Linked DNA regions of Homo sapiens: region 2 is linked to region 1. Evidence: fine-mapped expression QTL. A gene starts in region 1. The other region holds a variant in brackets. All regions are shown on one strand. Distances are from middle to middle. Region 1 holds the start of HIPK2 (homeodomain interacting protein kinase 2). Region 2 overlaps HIPK2 (homeodomain interacting protein kinase 2).

The links. PIP is the estimated chance that this variant, and not a neighbour inherited with it, causes the effect.
Region 2: its variant is the best candidate, but not a certain one, in a credible set for the expression of HIPK2 in whole blood (TOPMed, PIP 0.64).

What each region holds. Positions count from the first base shown.
Region 1 is chr7:139,775,041-139,780,409 of GRCh38, reverse strand. It overlaps HIPK2 (homeodomain interacting protein kinase 2), which reads left to right and starts at 2,412. Exons shown (of 15, transcript NM_022740.5): 1 at 2,412-2,805. The coding sequence starts at 2,787. It also overlaps a transcript of TBXAS1 not described here. RefSeq lists silencers at 2,067-2,296, 2,727-2,816.
Region 2 is chr7:139,712,104-139,717,472 of GRCh38, reverse strand. It overlaps HIPK2 (homeodomain interacting protein kinase 2), which reads left to right. Exons shown (of 15, transcript NM_022740.5): 2 at 458-1,541. Among named protein-coding and RNA genes, the nearest start is that of HIPK2, 63 kb to the left of the region's middle. RefSeq lists enhancers at 357-857, 858-1,358, 2,572-3,061, 4,772-5,369. The variant T/G (reference allele first, on the strand shown) is at 2,996.

The DNA.
Region 1 (5,369 bases):
ACAGTCTAGAGACACCTTGTCCAAAATGGTAGCCACTAACCACCCATGGTTATTAAAATTAAAAATTCAGTTCCTCAGTCATACTAGCCACATTTCATGTGCTCCACAGACATAAGTAGCTACACTGCCATTATGGCAGCAAGTTCTAATGGCCAGCACTAGAAAGGGGCAGAGAGACATGCATGTAGGGTATGTATTAACAGGGAGTTACATACCTGTGTGGTGAAGGCTATGATAGAGATTTACAGATGCAAAAGGAGAACATTACTATTGTTCTCCTTCTCATAATCAAAATACAGACACTGAGGCTCAGAGAGGTTAAGCATTTTGACCAAGATCACATAGTTAAGTGGAAGAGCTAGGATTTGAACCTAGGTCTGACTTACTCCCACGCTATCTCGGGCTGTTTTGTGGAGGAGGTGAGCCAGGCACAGGTAGAATCTGCTTAAAGAGAGAAGATGGAGAAGGTACCCCTCTGGGAAAGTGGGTGGGAAAGTGACCGCTTGGGCAAAGGCACAGTGACAGAGATGGGTGAAGCTGGCACTGGGCTACAAGTAAACCAGTTTGGCTAGAGAAGCAGTGACTTGCTGAACTCATGTCCTTAGAAAGCTAAGTCAGGACTCGCCTGCCTTGATGAAAAGCCAAGGCACTCAGCCCCACCTGCAGAGGTTGAGTCCTTAGAGGATGTTAGCCAGGAGCGTGGCATGGCCAGAACCACGTATTATGAAGATGGCAATATTTAGGATGACCTGGGCCAAGACTAAAGTTAAAGATTGCAGGGAGGATAGAAGGGAAGGAGATAAATGACCGGTGTGGAGCAAAAAACACTAGAGTGGGAGCCACGAGACCTATTCCTAAGCTTCAATACTGTGTGACATTGGGCAACAGATTTTACTTCTCTGGACTCCATTTCTTCAACTCTAAAAGGGCAGGGCTGGCCCAGATGACCTCTGAGGTCCTTTTAGCAACAGTAGTCTAGGATTCTGCAAACGTGAATGGCATTAGGTTAAGAGAAGGGATAGGAAGTGTAGCATTGATTATGGGGGCAAGGAAGACCGCAGAGTACAAGATCACACAGAGGAAGGTGTCGTGATGTACCACTAAAAAAGTGTGAAAGAGCTTGCCTTTTTTGGGAAGGACTGAAGGATGGGAACGGAGGATGGAGACCGGAAAGGATAAGAAGTAGTGAGAAAATCACGAGGTTGTTTTTAAGAAAGTTATACAGTGTTAGAGATCATTATTTTACACAGATAGCTTTTCAACTTTTTTAAACCCACGATTCACAGACGGAAATAAAATTGACATCATGGTCCAGTACACTTGTCCAGTACCTATAATCGAAACAAAAGGTTTATGAAACAATAGTTGCCCTTACTAAGGGCAATGGACTCTAATATTTTCTATTGGATTCCATTTCGTTCTTTTTGAAAGCTGGTTGCCTTCCGCTGCATTTATTTTATGATCTATTACTGTGTCACGACCCACAGTTTTAAAAACAGTGCCTAAGAGGAGACTCAACAAGTCTTCCTAAGTTGGAGGGGATGGCAGGGCATCCTATCCAAGCATCCGGGAGGCAGCTGGAGAAGCAAACCTGGAGAGGCTCCCGGCTGGGGAGAGTCTGGAGAGTGTTTAGCGGAAGCCCTGATAGGAGAGAGCGCTGAGAAAAGCGAGGACCCAGAGAGTTGTGAGCTCCCATTCAAGTGATGGAGTGGCGGCCCTCGGGACAGTGTAGACGCGAGGAGGAGAAGATCAGGGTGGCGTGGAAGCCAGACTCCGGCAGGAACCCAGCGACCACCCCGGGGGCTGCATTTCCGCGGCGTGCACGGCAGGGCTTCGGTGCCTCTGACCTCGTGTGGCTTTCCGAAGCTCCTCCACTCACCCGCCCTCCTCCGGAGCACGGCGCGCGCCCACTCCTTCATTCATTCATTCCACTCCTACCTCCGCGAGCGCCAACCGGCTGTGAGATGGGCGAGCCACTTTGCCAGCGTGGGGCTCTCTTTCGGGTCGGTTCCCTCCCCGCCAGCACACGCGCGAACCCTCGCACCTGGGCACACACGCGCGCGCGTGCACACACACACACAAAGTTCTGGGGGCCCCTCTGCAGACCGGCTCGGCTGCGCTGGGCTCGGAGCCGTGCGCCCGCCGGGTCCAGGCCGGCCCTCTCACCCACTACCCGGGGCCCGCCCTGCGCCCAGTCCCCCCGCGCTGCGCGGCAGCCCCTCCCAGCGCGGTCCCCTCGGGCCGCCGGCGCGGCTCTGCCCTTCGGTTCGGCCTTCCCCGCCTCGCATCCGTGCCATCGGCGCTCGATTGCGCGCGGACTCCCTGTGGCTCTCCCGGCCCCGCGCCCCGCCCCCGCCCCCGCCCGCCGCCCCCCTCCGCCAGCAACTTTTGCGGAGCCCCCGCGCCCAGCCATGCTGAGCTGAGCCCCGCCGGCCCTGGCCGCGCGCTGCCCCCGGCTCCCGCCCCTCCGCGGATCCGCTCGGGGGCCGCGGCCGCTCGGCGCCTCGGCCTCGGCCGCTCCGCCCGCCCGGCCGCCCCGAGCCCCGAGCCCCGAGCCCCCCGCGCCGGGCCCGGGCGGCAGCGGCGGCGGCGGCGGCGGCGGCGCGCCCGGCCCCCTCCCCCGGCGCCGGCCACGGGAGGCGGTGATGCGGGCGCGGGCGGCCTCGGCTGCGCCGAGAGCGGAGACACAGGCTCAAGATGGCAGATTCCGACTGAGGCTGGGGGGGCCGAGCTCGCGCGCCGCTTTCCCGTCCCCGTTGCCATGAACCGCGGACACCCCGGCCCCGATGGCCCCCGTGTACGAAGGTAAGGGGCGCCCGGCCCCGCCGACCCCGCGCCCGCCGCCCTCCGCGGCCCCCGCAGCTTTGTTCTGCCCGCGGCCCCGCGCCCGCAGCCCCCGGCGCCTGCCCCAGCCCCCACCCGGGGCCCGAGGGGGCCGCGACCCCCTCCCTCGCCCGGAAGATGACCGGGACCCGGCGCCGGCAGGGTCTTGCTTCCAGGGCGGGGAGAGGGGCCGGGGGCGCAGGAGGGGAGGGGGCGTGTGCGAGGGTGGGCGGCTGCCCGGGGAGGGCAGGGACGCCGGGGAAGGCGGACCGGTGACTGTGCTTTTTATTTATTTGCGATAAATGAAGGTGATGCGGCTTAGCTTCCACCGCCCCCCCACATTACCTTTCGGAGCACCTCCTTTCCACTTCGCTCTCCGCCCCGCGCCCCTTCCCATTTCTTTCCGCGCCCACCCCACGCTCCTTTATTCTCCGCGAGCCTCCGATTTTGGGGGGGCTGTGGAATCGGAATGCACGGGGCTAGGTGGGGAGAGAGGAGAGAGATGAAAAGTCCATGTCAGAGCCAGGCAGAACAATGAAATAGGCGAAAATCTCCCCTCATTAGCGTGTGGAAGGGGACGTGGACTTTGGGTTTTCCAGCCGGGGGAGCGGCGGAGACGTTTTTCTGGCTCGGTCTGGGTCGATCTGTGTTGTGCACCTTCACCTGGCATCGGGGTATTTTTCCCCATTTGACTGCCTTTAGCAAGAAAGAAAAGAACGCAAGGCAGAAAAGCAGTAGGTCTGCCTCGCACACTGTCTTTCGTTTCTCTTCAGTCCGTTCTGTCAGCTTCCAGCCAGAAAGCAACCCAGAATCAACTAAGTTTTTACACTTCGATGTGTTTTTGTGTGCTTGTAGTAGGAGAAATTTTAAACCCAAGTGTGTCTGATTTTTCAGTCGTTTCATCGTGTAAATGTTTGTCTCATGAAATCATTGAAATCGCAGCCTTCACATACTTTTAGCGTGGGTCCCCCGGCTTTCTTTCGGTTTTGTTCAGATATTCTGTGGATGAAATCGCAAATGAGAGGGGACAGGGTTTGTGTGGCACAGAGGAGGGCACGAGGGGGGAATGTAATCCTCCTGTAAATCCGGAGAACAGTTGTGGCCAGTGAGACAGGGAAGGCATTAATAGTTTTATCTCTGTTATAAGAGGCTGATTAAAAAAAAAAAAACTTAAAAGAAAATCTGTTATTAGTTTCAGGGCTCCAAATGAATTAGGTTTCTGGCCGGAATAAAGTTACCAGTCAGGCCCTGGATAACGAGGCTGTAAATAACCTATAGACTGTAAATATTTTTTTTTCAGACTCTCTTAGAAACAAAGGGGCTGTTTAGAAGGCAACAGAGAGATGTTATTCCAGGGGCTTTCCTCTTTGATTCTGAAGAACACAAGGTCCATTTAACCATTCGACAAAACAAAACGAAATTTCTGATCACTCCACCACGCAGAATAGAACATGCCGGTGGACATGTGAACATGCGGGAGAACCCATGTCGGGCGTTCATTGTTCATCTGCGTCTACAGGAGGGGGCTACAGTCAATGCTCCCACTGTCTAGAGTGTTAAAATGAAACAATTTTCTCTTTATTAAGTACCTCCTTGAGACTCCCTCTGCTGGACACTCCCGGTGAGTTGAGAGAAGGAACTTGGCATTGAATTCAGAACTATAGTAAACGGCTGGTTTCCCTGTTACTAGGGACCGGGTATGTGAGTTGGGGTGTATTTTGTCAACTTTGTGGAAAGCCATCTTGGGAACTGCACTGTTCTCCTCCTGCTCCTTTCATTTTAAATCCATATGGAAGGTAGGCCATGCCCCCGAGGCTGAGACTTGGCTCTCCCCGTTCCTGCTACATTGTTCTTCCAGTTCCTTACGCCAGATAAAGAACTGCAGGTGTGTAGGGTGTTACGGTTTAAGAATAATCATGGATCTCAAAAGTCTCATGAACTGTTTTTATTTGCCAGCCTTCCTTCCCTGTCTCAGGTGACCTCCGCGGTGGCCTCTTTCAGCCCTCAGTTTCCCTCCATCTTGTCCGTGTGCCCTCTTCATTGTTCCTGCGCTGTGCACCCTTTTATTCCGGATGTTTATCTGTGCACCTTTATAATTATTTTTCTAATCTTCCTCCCCATCCCACCTCAACTGGCCCACATCAGTCTGCCAAAAGCCCAGATCTGGGTGTTTTTGAAAGAGATTGTTGGACATGCTCTAAAACAGACAGGTGACTTCTAGAATCAAGGATTAGGTTGCTAGGACCCGCATTCACTCACTGTGATGAGTGTGCCAAGACTCTGATGACCTCCTTTCTCCTGCCGTGGTGACATCCTCTGGGTTCAGGAAACCTGATTTTTCCCCTGTCTCAATCAGAGCACATGGACTCCCTGTGTGCATGCTAAACGAGCAGAGCTTTTCCTGTAGATTTCTATAAGAAGAGGGATTCCTTGTGGGTTTTGAGCTCCTAAAGAGTGTGCATGATTCTTCTCAGGAAAAGTATAACGACACGAGAGGGAATTGTTTCAATGGGGTGCTGCTGCACCAAGTTGGAATACCAGGTGAA
Region 2 (5,369 bases), 63 kb after region 1:
GTGGGAAGATGTTTTCTCAAACCAGTAAACTTGACAGGGTCTGTGGACAAGGCTGAGCTGATGATGTGGGCAACGAAGTACGTGACAGCAGAGCCTCCTGAGTTTCAGTAGAAAGCAACCCAGGGAGAACTGAGGAAGAATCCATTTCTGTCACAAGTAATGTTTACAAAAAAAAATGGTGACCTATGTCCTGATATTGGAATTCTGTTTCTGAGTCTCAGCTGTGTTGCTGGCACCTAATGGTGGCAAGTGGCACCCTGGAACCACTTGGTTCCACAAACTCAGTGACCAGAATGTGCTTCTGGGTGGAAGAGATTCACTTTTTCAACCTTGTTTTCAAGTGGGAGGAATATATTCTGTATGGCCCAAGCCACAGATGAGAACTGAAGGGGATCTGTTGAGTTTACTTGTACCAAGGTGACTCCGATACTTACTTTTCGTTTTCCTTTCCTTGTAGGTATGGCCTCACATGTGCAAGTTTTCTCCCCTCACACCCTTCAATCAAGTGCCTTCTGTAGTGTGAAGAAACTGAAAATAGAGCCGAGTTCCAACTGGGACATGACTGGGTACGGCTCCCACAGCAAAGTGTATAGCCAGAGCAAGAACATCCCCCTGTCGCAGCCAGCCACCACAACCGTCAGCACCTCCTTGCCGGTCCCAAACCCAAGCCTACCTTACGAGCAGACCATCGTCTTCCCAGGAAGCACCGGGCACATCGTGGTCACCTCAGCAAGCAGCACTTCTGTCACCGGGCAAGTCCTCGGCGGACCACACAACCTAATGCGTCGAAGCACTGTGAGCCTCCTTGATACCTACCAAAAATGTGGACTCAAGCGTAAGAGCGAGGAGATCGAGAACACAAGCAGCGTGCAGATCATCGAGGAGCATCCACCCATGATTCAGAATAATGCAAGCGGGGCCACTGTCGCCACTGCCACCACGTCTACTGCCACCTCCAAAAACAGCGGCTCCAACAGCGAGGGCGACTATCAGCTGGTGCAGCATGAGGTGCTGTGCTCCATGACCAACACCTACGAGGTCTTAGAGTTCTTGGGCCGAGGGACGTTTGGGCAAGTGGTCAAGTGCTGGAAACGGGGCACCAATGAGATCGTAGCCATCAAGATCCTGAAGAACCACCCATCCTATGCCCGACAAGGTCAGATTGAAGTGAGCATCCTGGCCCGGTTGAGCACGGAGAGTGCCGATGACTATAACTTCGTCCGGGCCTACGAATGCTTCCAGCACAAGAACCACACGTGCTTGGTCTTCGAGATGTTGGAGCAGAACCTCTATGACTTTCTGAAGCAAAACAAGTTTAGCCCCTTGCCCCTCAAATACATTCGCCCAGTTCTCCAGCAGGTAGCCACAGCCCTGATGAAACTCAAAAGCCTAGGTCTTATCCACGCTGACCTCAAACCAGAAAACATCATGCTGGTGGATCCATCTAGACAACCATACAGAGTCAAGGTCATCGACTTTGGTTCAGCCAGCCACGTCTCCAAGGCTGTGTGCTCCACCTACTTGCAGTCCAGATATTACAGGTAAGACCGTCCACAAGGAGACAGGAGCTGCTGAATGCCCAGTGGCACTCACAGAGAATGTGCCACCTTAGTCACTGTGGGGAGATAAAATTATATGTCTACAGTTCCTGCCTTCAAGTGATCTTAATGTACTTACGAAATTAGGACATGTGCACATTGCGATGTCAATTAGAAGTCACATTAGAACGGAGCCAGGTAAGATCCGTGGCACAGGTGTTCAGCGTTGGAAGGGCTCCCTGGGACCTGGGGTGCAGAGCAGAAGAGTTCCGTCCTCCCGGATGGGTAGGATCCAGACAGGTGGTGGAGAGAGAGGGATGTGCCATCCACAGTCCGCAGTCACACTAGTGGGAATTTACAGGAGACAAGAAGGACACCCGCCTGGCCAGAACAGTTTGTGAGTGGTGGGAGATGTGAGTGAAAGCCTGGTTGGAACCAGGTCACTGGGGGTCTTAAATATCAGATCAAGGAATTGCAACTGTATCCTCAAACCCAGAGCAAGCCCTGGAAACCTTGAACAACATAAGGTAACGGGTTGAAAGGGATGTTCCGAGAAGGTTCCTTGTCTATCCACGTGCAGAAGGGCTGGAGGAAGGGAGAGACTAGTCTGGGGCCAGCTGGGTGGCTCCTGTGGTAAGGTGACTTCAGGCTTTGGGTCAGGATGAGGGAGGAATGATAGTGTCCGTGGCAGGGAAGTGTGTTCAGTCATGGACTCACACATGCAGTCATTCAACAAGCTTTGATTTCACTTTTAATATGTGCCAGCCGCAGTGCTAGGTATAGGGATATAGACAGGGCCCTTGCCATCCTGGGGTATCTGGAAGCTTTTCAGGGACCCCTGTATGCAGTCAGGATTGGAACCGCTGCCGACATGGAGCTGAGATCGGAGTGCTGGCTTTGGAGTCAGGAAAGGCCAGAGTGAACCTGGTCCCTCCTCTCCTAATGGCCTGATTTCTCCATGCCTTCATTTCCTAACCCATGAAGTGGGAGAAATCCTCTCACCAGCCTCGTGGGCAGCTGGGAGGTAACATGGCTGTAACATGGCTTAGGTGTGTCACTCCGTGGCTGGCCATGGCGGGTGCACAGCGGGGAGGCGGCAGGGATGGAAAGCAAGACCCTGCTCTGTGGAACCAGCCTGGGGGTGTGTTTGGGGTGGTGCCGAACAGTGCAGTGGAGATAGAGGTCACAAGAAACAAAACTGAAACTCCCATGAGAAGATGGGACGGATGCACATTTAAGAGCGTGCCACGTAGGCAGGAAGACCGGGGTCCCCGGAGGCCATCCTGCTTGCAAGCAAGCACGCTCGCTTGCCCGTGTGCTTTCTCCATGCGCCTTTCAAGGCCACAGAGAGAAGGCTGGAACATGCCCCAGGGCCTTGTCGACACAGCTGACCTGTCACCCATTCCTGGGGCTGACCTGGGCCAGCTTCCCCTTCTTGCTCCCTGTCCGGGCCCCCA[T/G]CCTGGCTGCAGGCAGAGCTGTTGCAAGTCTCCTCCCAGCCCCTCCCTCAGCCTGCTGGGCACCAGGCCCTCCTTCCCTGGGAGAGCAACAGCCCCTCCGTTCGGATCCCCAGATGCCCTCCCACCTTCCACCCCGTCTCCTTTCATCCTAATCCTGACTCACACAGGAGGTTTCGAGGCCTCTTCACCCATGCTGTTTCTGTCTCTTCCCTCTTCCCTTTAGGAGGCATTTCCTGAGTTAGAACAGCTCTCTGCGAGCCTCTTCTCTGCCCTGCCCTGAGGATTCCTTTCCCGCTCATTTCCTATGCGCAGAAAGGTCTCCACAGGCCTGTGCTTTCACCACCAGGCCCCGTGCGGACAGACGGGTCTACTGCTGCCCCTCCACTTGCTCTCCACTCCCTCGTCCTGACCAGGCCATCCACTCTGTGCCCCGCTGGCCCCAGAGCCAATGGCAGGGAGAAGTAAGCCCAGGGCAGGAGCCTCCAAGGAAGACAAGAAGCCTCTCCTTGTCTCCAGAGGAGAAGGATGGGCAATGGTTGAGTGAATCTGGAGGGTTGGGTGCCCGGTACCGACAGCACATATTCTCTGTAGAGAGTGCCTGGGCCTCTGAAAGCCAGCTCTGGTGGCCGTCCCGGGTACCAGCCCCATTGGGGGCTAGCTGGTGCTGTGCTGGCTCTGGGAGGCTGCTGTGCCACTTCGTATTTAGGTTGGTAAATTCAGCATGCCAAAGGCTGGCTCTTTCTAGTTCTTGGCCTGAATTCAGGGTGAACAGCCCCTGACTTGGCTGCTAGGGCTTTTATGTAGTTCATCTGAATTGCTGCATCATGAACACGTACCAGTGTTATTAACATTCACTGAAAGCTAGCATGGCGACTTGTAAAAAGACTTCGACAAACTCTGTTTAAAAGGCAGCACATCCTTAGAGCGAAACTTGGTGAATCGAGTAAGCTGAATTGGGGATTCTTAAGACCCCCTTGTCATCTTGCCTTCTGGTGCCCATGTGACGCTTCCTGGAGCCCTCCCTGCCCATCCCCTTGGACTCTGCGAGTTTTTCTTTGCTTTCCTGCCTGGTGCTGGTGCCCCTAGTGCTGAGGAGACAGGTCGCAAAATCGGGGATCCTAGCTCAGGAAGCCTGCGGCAGCAGTAAAAGTTTGCCTGTGAGGGTTGGGGAGGGCTGACTCCTTCACCTGGACTCACAGCGATCCTCTCCTGCCCCCCTCTGTGGGTGAGATCAGGCCTTTTGGACGCCTCTGGTGGGTGTGGTAGGCTGGTTTGCTGGCGGTTCCTGGGCCCTCAGGAGCCCTCTTTTCCCCACTTCGTGACAGGCACAGTCACATCTGGCCCCTGTGTCCCCACATCCCTCTGAAGGACCCTCCGTTTAGTTGTGATAGTACCCTCTTTTCACCCCTGAAATCACCATTGCCTAAAATTCTGAGCAAGAAGGCCTCTTTCTCCTTTCTGTGGTCACCTTCAGGCCCTCATGTCAGCCTCCCTGTGCCCAGCCCTGGTTCCAAAAATACGGTCAGCAGGAAAGACAGCGGCTCTTCTGCCTGAAATGAGGCTTCATTTCTAAGTTGGTGCAATGTTCTGTTTCTCCCTCAGGCCTTGTCTGAGCCCTGCAGTGGTTTGCCACCATATAGATCGATCCGATTTTTCGAGGACAGTCTCTAGTGCTCTGTCTCTTTTCGTCCCAGCTGTGTGGGACAGCCAGCTCTAGGCCATGTTTATCAAGTTGATTTTCCTGGTGGCTTTGCCTCTTATAGGAAAGAAAGGGGGCAAGAAAAGCTCTTTAATTGTCCATCGTTAAGGCCCATGTCCCAGAAAGAAGACGCTTTCAGATGCTTTCAGCTGCATCTGCATCGTGAGGGAATGGCTGTGTGTTTGAGCCGCCTGGGCTGGAGGAGTCATTGCATGCTGTGCATCCAGCCTCCCAGCAGGTTGGCCTTTGTCCTGCAGGTGGTGGGTGGGGACTTTCTCCCCTCGGCCCCCTGTATCTGAGCTGGGCACATTATCGTCCCAGGACATCTGACTTTCAAAAGGTAGAGTACTTATGTGTCCCTCTGTCATTTTGCATGGGACTGGGCTAAGTGTCTCATCCCACCATTGTCCCCACCTAGTGACACAGAAACGGTGTGAGACAAGGATATGTTATCCTCGCCTTGGGGACTTGGAAAAGGAGGTGGTGTCCCCGGAGCCAACTGTTTTCCCCAGCTCTCAGGCATGTGCCTGGCCACAGTGGCTGTTGGTATTCTGTGAGGCAAGCCCACTGGTGTGTTTTTCAGGAAACAAAGGCTGCTTTTTAAGTTTTTTTCTCGAGTCTGAAGCAGGGGTATTCCCTTCCAATTCGAAGGTCAGTTATGTCATTAACTGTCAG